Linked DNA regions of Homo sapiens. The protein of the gene in region 2 interacts with the protein of the main gene of each other region in a pairwise test. Each region holds a gene or a part of one and is shown on either strand. Other genes may lie near its edges. The genes, in order: CHRM2 and TSPAN33.

The links.
Region 1: the proteins of TSPAN33 (region 2) and CHRM2 interact in a two-hybrid assay, tested with the Homo sapiens proteins (one large-scale study listed by BioGRID and IntAct).

Annotation. Positions count from the first base shown.
Region 1 is NC_000007.14:137,011,543-137,015,369, forward strand, and holds part of CHRM2 (muscarinic acetylcholine receptor M2), read left to right. Parts: intron 1-3,277; 5' UTR 3,278-3,323; coding exon 3,324-3,827. UniProt on the Homo sapiens protein: The muscarinic acetylcholine receptor mediates various cellular responses, including inhibition of adenylate cyclase, breakdown of phosphoinositides and modulation of potassium channels through the action of G proteins.
Region 2 is NC_000007.14:129,165,135-129,168,961, reverse strand, and holds part of TSPAN33 (tetraspanin-33), read right to left. Parts: intron 2,185-3,827; coding exon 2,056-2,184; intron 1,564-2,055; coding exon 1,402-1,563; intron 1,190-1,401; coding exon 1,088-1,189; 3' UTR 1-1,087. UniProt on the Homo sapiens protein: Part of TspanC8 subgroup, composed of 6 members that interact with the transmembrane metalloprotease ADAM10.

The DNA.
Region 1 (3,827 bases), 7.8 Mb from region 2:
CAATTGGATGATGCACTCCAACACTGAGGGCAAAATTCCCCATCTAGTCCATTCACACTCAAACACGAATTGCCTCTGGAAACACCCTCACAGACACATCCGAATTAATATTTTATCAGGTTTCTAGGTATTCCTTAATTCTGCCAAGTTGACACCTAAAATTAAGTTCACAAGTCCACCACTTGTCAGCCTAGTGTTCATATACATCTCCTCAAACTATATGTTATTTCCAAATAAAAGCAGTAACAAGGTGATGGTTCCACCTAACATGATGCAGGCCAATGTGATGAGACCATCCTGCATGCAAGTGAAATGCCAACCCCTTTTCCAGAATTCAGCTTTCAGGATTTCAACATTCAGAATTTTAATCTTTCAGGATTGTAATTTTGGGGATTTTGGACCTTAGCAATTTAGATCCTCATCAAACTAGTTGATTTTGAATCCCTACTTTTCAACATCAGTGTTATTCATTATTCTCCAGAGGAAATTATCAAAAATCTTTTAAAAACTAGAATATAAGTCCTATGCTTTATCAAAATTATGAATAATTAAAATGCAGAGTCAATACATTCATTTTTTGTATTTTTCAAACTAAGTGAATTAATATTAACATTTCATGAAACAGATACACATATAGCTCAACTCCAAACTGTCCATGAATTTATCTAATAAACAGAGAAAATGCTGCTTATAAGCAAGTCACAATTCTGATCTTACAGTTAGCTGAGCTATTAAGAAATTGTTGGAATAAGAACTGGGATAATAAAATGTTTTTGTTCAAATAAATTACCATGAATATACAATTGTATGATTAATTGCAAAAAAGGATTGTCAAAGGGAAATCCGATTAAAATAATTCAACTGATCTAAGTTGCATTCCATTAACATCATTTCCCTGATTAAACTCTTCAATATTTCCCAATGAGCTGCAGGCATACATATGTAATATTACATATAATCACCTTTTTGCTTAAATAAAATTATATTCTGTAATAATCTATGTCTCACTATGATTATGTCATCTTCTAACTATATAACTTTCCACAGCAATGCCAGGACACAAATATCTACCTGTTTTACTAGCCGCATAATATTCCATTGTAAGAGTATTCCATAATATATTTAACCAATCCCTTGTCAATGAATAGTTTTAATATATCTCGGGATTTTTTTGCTATAACAACATTTCTGAGTGAACATACTTGAGTAGACCTCTTTGTACATTTTTATGACTCTATCTGAAAGACACATTCCTAAATGTGGCATTCCTGAGACAAGTGTTTCTTAATACATTTTTATAGATACAGATTTAAAGTTCTATAGATATAGATACATTATCCTTCGTGGTGATTATCCCGCTAGTCCCACCAAAAGTATTCAACACTACCATTAATACTACGGATGGAAAATTGTTTTTCACTGTCTGGATTTGCATCTTTAAACTGTGGGGTTGAGTATCATTTCATATGTTTAAAAGTCATTAATGTCTAATTTTTCTTTGATTGAACTACTACATCAATGTTTTAGATTATTCATCTTTCATCTTTCCTTTTTTGCCAAAACTCTATTATATTAAAGACATTGGATAATTTTCTATCGTGCAATTTACAAATATTGTTTCTCAATTGTTATTTTGACTTTTTTGCTCTATGCAAAAATTTTAAAGGAATATGCAACAGTTACATATATTTTCCTTTCTGGCTTCTGAATTTTGGGTCTTATTATATTAAGGCCAAATCCCATTATTTGGGTTTTGTCAAATAAAATACTGGAAAACAATTGACTTTCCAAAGCAGAAAAAATTATTTTTTTAAATGTTATTTGTGTTATGAAGTTGCTTACCAAATTATTTTCTACATGGATTTCAAGGGCAAACCACTGCCCATTTCTTTGTAATTAATAGCATCCAAACTAATCAATATTCCCAAATTTTAATTTCTCAGCAATGCTTATTTTCTGACAGCTCACAGCAATTTTTTCAAAAAGAGGTGGAACTTGGGCTAGTTTCTGCTTCAGATGCTGTTTCTCCAGAAATGTGTCATATCTCTTTGATGAATTCTTAACTTTCTTTTCTAAATCCCCAATATACATTTTCCATTATGAAAGATCACTCAATTGTCATCAGACTTCAATGATATTATCTCAAAAATGATGATTATGTGTTTACTTACACACAACAGGATAGGGAAACAAGAAGTGCATTCAGGTTTAATAATTGCTTCTTCATCAACCCATGTCTGCCACCAGGCAGAGACCTTGTTTTAATCATCATTGAACGTCCAGAACACCTAATTAAGAGAAGCTGCTCAATAGATATGTGAGCACAAAGTGAAAGAATGAATGACTGAACAAACTGGGATTTCATCTTTCTGAGCCTTAGTTCCTTCTACAAAACAAAAAGTTTGGCAGAAAGAATAGTAAGATAATAGATTTGATAGTGGTTTGAAAAACAAAACATTCAGAAAAGTGGTATTTTCTCCCATAATTTTGTCTTCTTATTGATGTATTAATTTGTATGTCTATTCCAGAAATCTCTTTATGCTTTGGAAAGTCTTATGCATAATTTTGGCTTTTTCAGTTCAATATGCATTTAATAAGCAAATATTCTTGTGTAAGATATGGAATATTGGAAATGCTGATTATGTAATACTGATTACAAGTATGAAATAAAATAGAGGCAAGAGGAAAATAATTCTCATCTAGGGAGAGTATACTGGCTATTAAGTATTATTATATTATCTTTATTTTCACCATCCTCAGTGTTATTGTGAAAAAGGCTTAGAGCTTCCATGAGGAAAGGCACTGTTAACTATAAAAGTCACACATTCAATATTATACATTCTATGCTTTCTTCTATAATTGTGTCCTCTCACTAATTTACTAATTTTTATGTCTATTCCAGGAATCCCTTGATGTTTTAGAAAGTGTTGTTTGTAATTTTGGTTTATTTAATTCAATTTATCAGTATTATGCTAAGTTTCATGGATTGATGAGATATATAGGTAGATAGGTAGGTAGATAGATACTCATATCTGGATAAGGACATATTTAAAACATTACTGGACTTCAAGTTCATTGCCAGCCTGAAAGGTCCTTTTGAATCCTCCATTTGAAGGTCTTGCTTTTTACATGGGGAATTGAGGCAGGTAGACACAGTAATCATGCAGGGGAAGGGAGATTTGGGAGAAAATAATGTGGTTTAAAAGGAGAAACAACATTATGTATTTTAAACCAATGTTTATATTATGTTTGTTAATTTTATTCTATTTCCTTGCAGGTTTAAATGTTTATTTGCTACTTGGCTACTGATTAGAGAACGCAAAATGAATAACTCAACAAACTCCTCTAACAATAGCCTGGCTCTTACAAGTCCTTATAAGACATTTGAAGTGGTGTTTATTGTCCTGGTGGCTGGATCCCTCAGTTTGGTGACCATTATCGGGAACATCCTAGTCATGGTTTCCATTAAAGTCAACCGCCACCTCCAGACCGTCAACAATTACTTTTTATTCAGCTTGGCCTGTGCTGACCTTATCATAGGTGTTTTCTCCATGAACTTGTACACCCTCTACACTGTGATTGGTTACTGGCCTTTGGGACCTGTGGTGTGTGACCTTTGGCTAGCCCTGGACTATGTGGTCAGCAATGCCTCAGTTATGAATCTGCTCATCATCAGCTTTGACAGGTACTTCTGTGTCACAAAACCTCTGACCTACCCAGTCAAGCGGACCACAAAAATGGCAGGTATGATGATTGCAGCTGCCTGGGTCCTCTCTTTCATCCTCTGGGCTCCAGCCATTCTCTTCTGGCAGTTCATTGTAGGGGTG
Region 2 (3,827 bases):
CGCGCGTGTGGCGGGCAGCAAGGGGGAGGTGTGTGGCGTTTAGGAGAGTCTCCAGTGCCGTCCTCTGCAGGGCCCTTCTACACCTCCCCTTCCAGTTGCCAGAATGGAAAATTCATGGAGTCCCGCGTAGCCCAGGTCAACACGCTTTTATTGCCACTTCTGGCTCCCCTCGTCCCAGCAAGATTCCTACCTCTTACCCTGTAGGAATACTGAGCTCCGATGCAGGGGAATGGGGTGGGGGTGTTACCACTTCTCCTCTGCACACTGCCAAGTTAAAGAAAACCCTGCTTGCTGGAGAGGGAGGGCCAGACAGGGAGGAATTCAAGGGCATGTATGGCTCAGTCCCACTTCTGACTGCAGAGTATAGGGACCAGGGTTCCAAACTTTTTTTCGAAGTAAGGGAGGTGGGGAAGAATTTGGCTGCTGTTGTACCCCGTGTCCTAGCTGCCATGTTTCCATGGAAATGAAGGCGGGGCAGGATGTAGCTCACTCTGACTACCTGGGAGGATGGCAGGACAGGCATTTGGTAAACATATCTCCCTCCACTCCTACCTAGCACATACGGCTGTCCCCAGCCGACCCCCAGGCTCTCTCCTCACTGCCTGCTCCACTCCCTTCCCTTCTGGAGCTGGTATCATGCCAAGTGGAGTCCAGGCAGGGCTGCCAGTGCTACTCTCCACAGCCAGGTCTCACTGGCACGTTAGGATCTAAGTATGTCCGCCAAGCTCAGGAGCATCCCTGCTAGAGCTGGTGGTGGCAGTGCCTCGGTGAAAAGGCAGCAGCAGTACCCCCAACTCTCTGTGCAACTGCTGTTTCCCAAACAAAACTGAAAACATAAACCCAAACACTTAAGGGTATCACTCTGGCACAATGCTGAGGGCTGGGATGGGGGAGAGGAGGCGCATCCTCCTGAGACTGGAGCCACCTGTGCACCCTGCCTTCTGCCCATCTGGAGTTTGCTTCTTCCCACTGGGCTGTCACTGGGGGGCTGGAATCCAAATCTCCATTTGGTGCTGCTTTCAGCACCCACTGCTGTTCGTTTATGAGGCTTGCCAGTTTCCATGGTGAGGAGGTGCAGGATGGATTCTCAGTACCATGGGTCAGCCCGGTGCTGCTGGTTGTAGAGCTGTAGCTTGATCTGATCTTTGATCTGATTCACTAGGATCTGGGACAGCAGAATTCCCACCAGCTGGGAGAGGCAAGAAGGAATTGGGCACTCAGCAGTGAGTGATGGCCTTGTTTTCCCTGGCTCGATCTTCCCAGTGCGGCCAGCACTATCCCTTTCCCTACCCCTCAGCCATGTCAGTGCCTGACACCCTCGCTGATCCCCAGGTGCCTTCCCCAAAACAAAGGAGTCTTTACAGAGTGTGTGGGACCAACAAGTCTCACAGGGTAAGTTACCTGGGGGATGGCCAGGCCTAGAGCCACACCACCAAGTAAGAATAGGTTGCTGTGTATCCAGTTGACCAACTTGTCAATACAGCCATTGGTGTAGATGACTTTGCTAGCTTCCAAGTAGTCAAAGGCCTGCATACCTTGGCCACACATAGTGTTGATCACTGCCTGGGGAAAGAGTTGAAAAGCCAATTGGGACTGTAATTCCAATAACTTTTTGTTTGGGGCCTTAGCTGATGGGCTTCCCACCCTTCCCAAACTCCTAAATTGTCAGAGAATATATGTGGAGGATATTGGGTTGGAAGTTGCCAAATGCAGACTTCCCTTCCTCTGAGAGGTCAGGATCCAGGTCTCTTTGCTCTGGGTGGTGGAATAATCTGTACAACAAACCCCTAAGACACAAGTTTACTTATATAACAAACCTGCACAGGTACTGAATCTGAACTTAAAACTTAAATCTGTCCCTTCTGAACTCCATGTGGACTACATGAGTATGAGGTTAATAGAAGCATCAGGTTGGGGTGAAGAAAAACACCTGACAGCTGTCCCACATGACTGATCGGTGAAGCTAGGGGATGGGGATCCCCAGTAGCAGCTGCCCCCATCAGAAAGTGACTCAGCTCGCTGCCTAGGAGGAAATGAGGCAGGATGCTGGCTCACCTGGTCAGGAGTAGGCAAGCAACAGGAGTAAGGCACAGAGCAGCGCTCTCGACTGGGGTTGTCTTCTGAGCAGTTGAAATACATGTTCTGAGACCAGTCCTTGTAGGAAATCCCTCCACAGCAGCTAAACTGCAACAAAACCCACCAGAGGTTAAGAATCACCCACCCCTCACACTGAGGTGACCAGGGGAATTCTCAGAGCCACCAAAAGTCTATAGCAAGCTTCTACTGGGAACTTTAGGTTGTGTTTTAACACAGCCTTAAACTTTGAGCTCCAGCTTCCCAGTTGCCTTCGCCTGAAGATATTCTCACTTCTTAATTTCTATTACTTCGTATATCTTGTTATAACTTACCACTGTGCTTGTTGGTATTACAGTTGTACATATATTTTGTTTTACATACTCAGCTATAATCTTCTTGAGAGAAGTTTCTGGCTTTGCAGGCAAATGGAAGTGATCAAAAGTATTGGCTGAAATAATTACAGTATCAGTGCTGAAAAACTTCTCCTTAAGATAGAGAAAACACAGGGGAGGAATCTTCAATATTGTGAGTCAATCATTACTCCATGAGAGCCAACTGGATCTCAAAGTCAAGTGTCTATTGCACCAGAGGAAGGGGAACTCAGGACTTGTCTCAGAAGCACTTTTACTTAAAAGTTAACTTTTTTGGCCAGGTGCTGTGGCTCACACCGGTAATCCCAGCACTTTGGGAGGCCGAGGAGGGCAGATCACCTGAGGTCAGGAGTTCAAGACCAGCCTGGCCAATATTGCAAAACCCCATCTTTACTAAAAATACAAGAATTAGCTGGGCGTGGTTTGGCAGGCACCTGTAATCCCAGCTACTCAGGAGGCTGAGGCAGGCAGATTCACTTGAACCCAGGAGGCGGATGTTGCAGTGGGCCAAGATCACGCCATTGTACTCCAGCCTGGGTAACAGAGCAAGACTCCGTCTCAGGGAAAAAAAAAAGTTAACTTTTATTTTTCACTTATTTATTTTTGAGACGGAGTCTCTGTCTGTCACCCAGGCTGGAGTGCAATGGCATGATCTTGGCTCACTGCAACCTCCAACTCCCAAATTCAAGCTATTCTCGCACCTCAGCCTCCTGAGTAGCTGGGACTACAGGTGTGCGCCACCAAACCCGGCTAATTTTTGTATTTTTGGTGGAAACAGGGTTTCATCATGTTGGCCAGGCTAGTCTCAAACTCCTGACCTCAAATGATCTGCCTGCCTTGGCCTCCCAAAGTGCTGGGATTACAGATGTAAGCTACCATGCCTGGCCTAATTGTTAACTTTTGATTCATAGCAGCCTTGTTCACAGTAGCCGAACGGTGGAAGCAACCCTTTTCTCCACTGGTGAATGAATGGATAAACAAAATGTGGCATATACATACAACAGAATATTATTCAGCCTTCAAAAGGAAGGCAGTTGTGGCACATGCCAAAACAGAGATGAAACTTGAAGACATGCTAAGTGAAATAACCCACTCAAAAAAGCATTAATACCGTGAGTCCCTTCATTTGAGGTACCTAGAGTTGTCAAATTTACAGACAGAAAGTAGAATGGTGGTTGCTGGAGGAGAGGAAAATGGGGCTTTAGTGTTCAATGGATACAGAATTTCAGGAGAGGAAAATGGGGAGTTAGTGTTTAATGGATACAAAGTTTCAAGAGAGGAAAATGGGGAGTTAGTGTTTGATGGATACAGAGTTTCAAGAGAGGAAAATGGGGAGTTAGTGTTTGATGGATACAGAGATTCAAGAGAGGAAATGGGGAG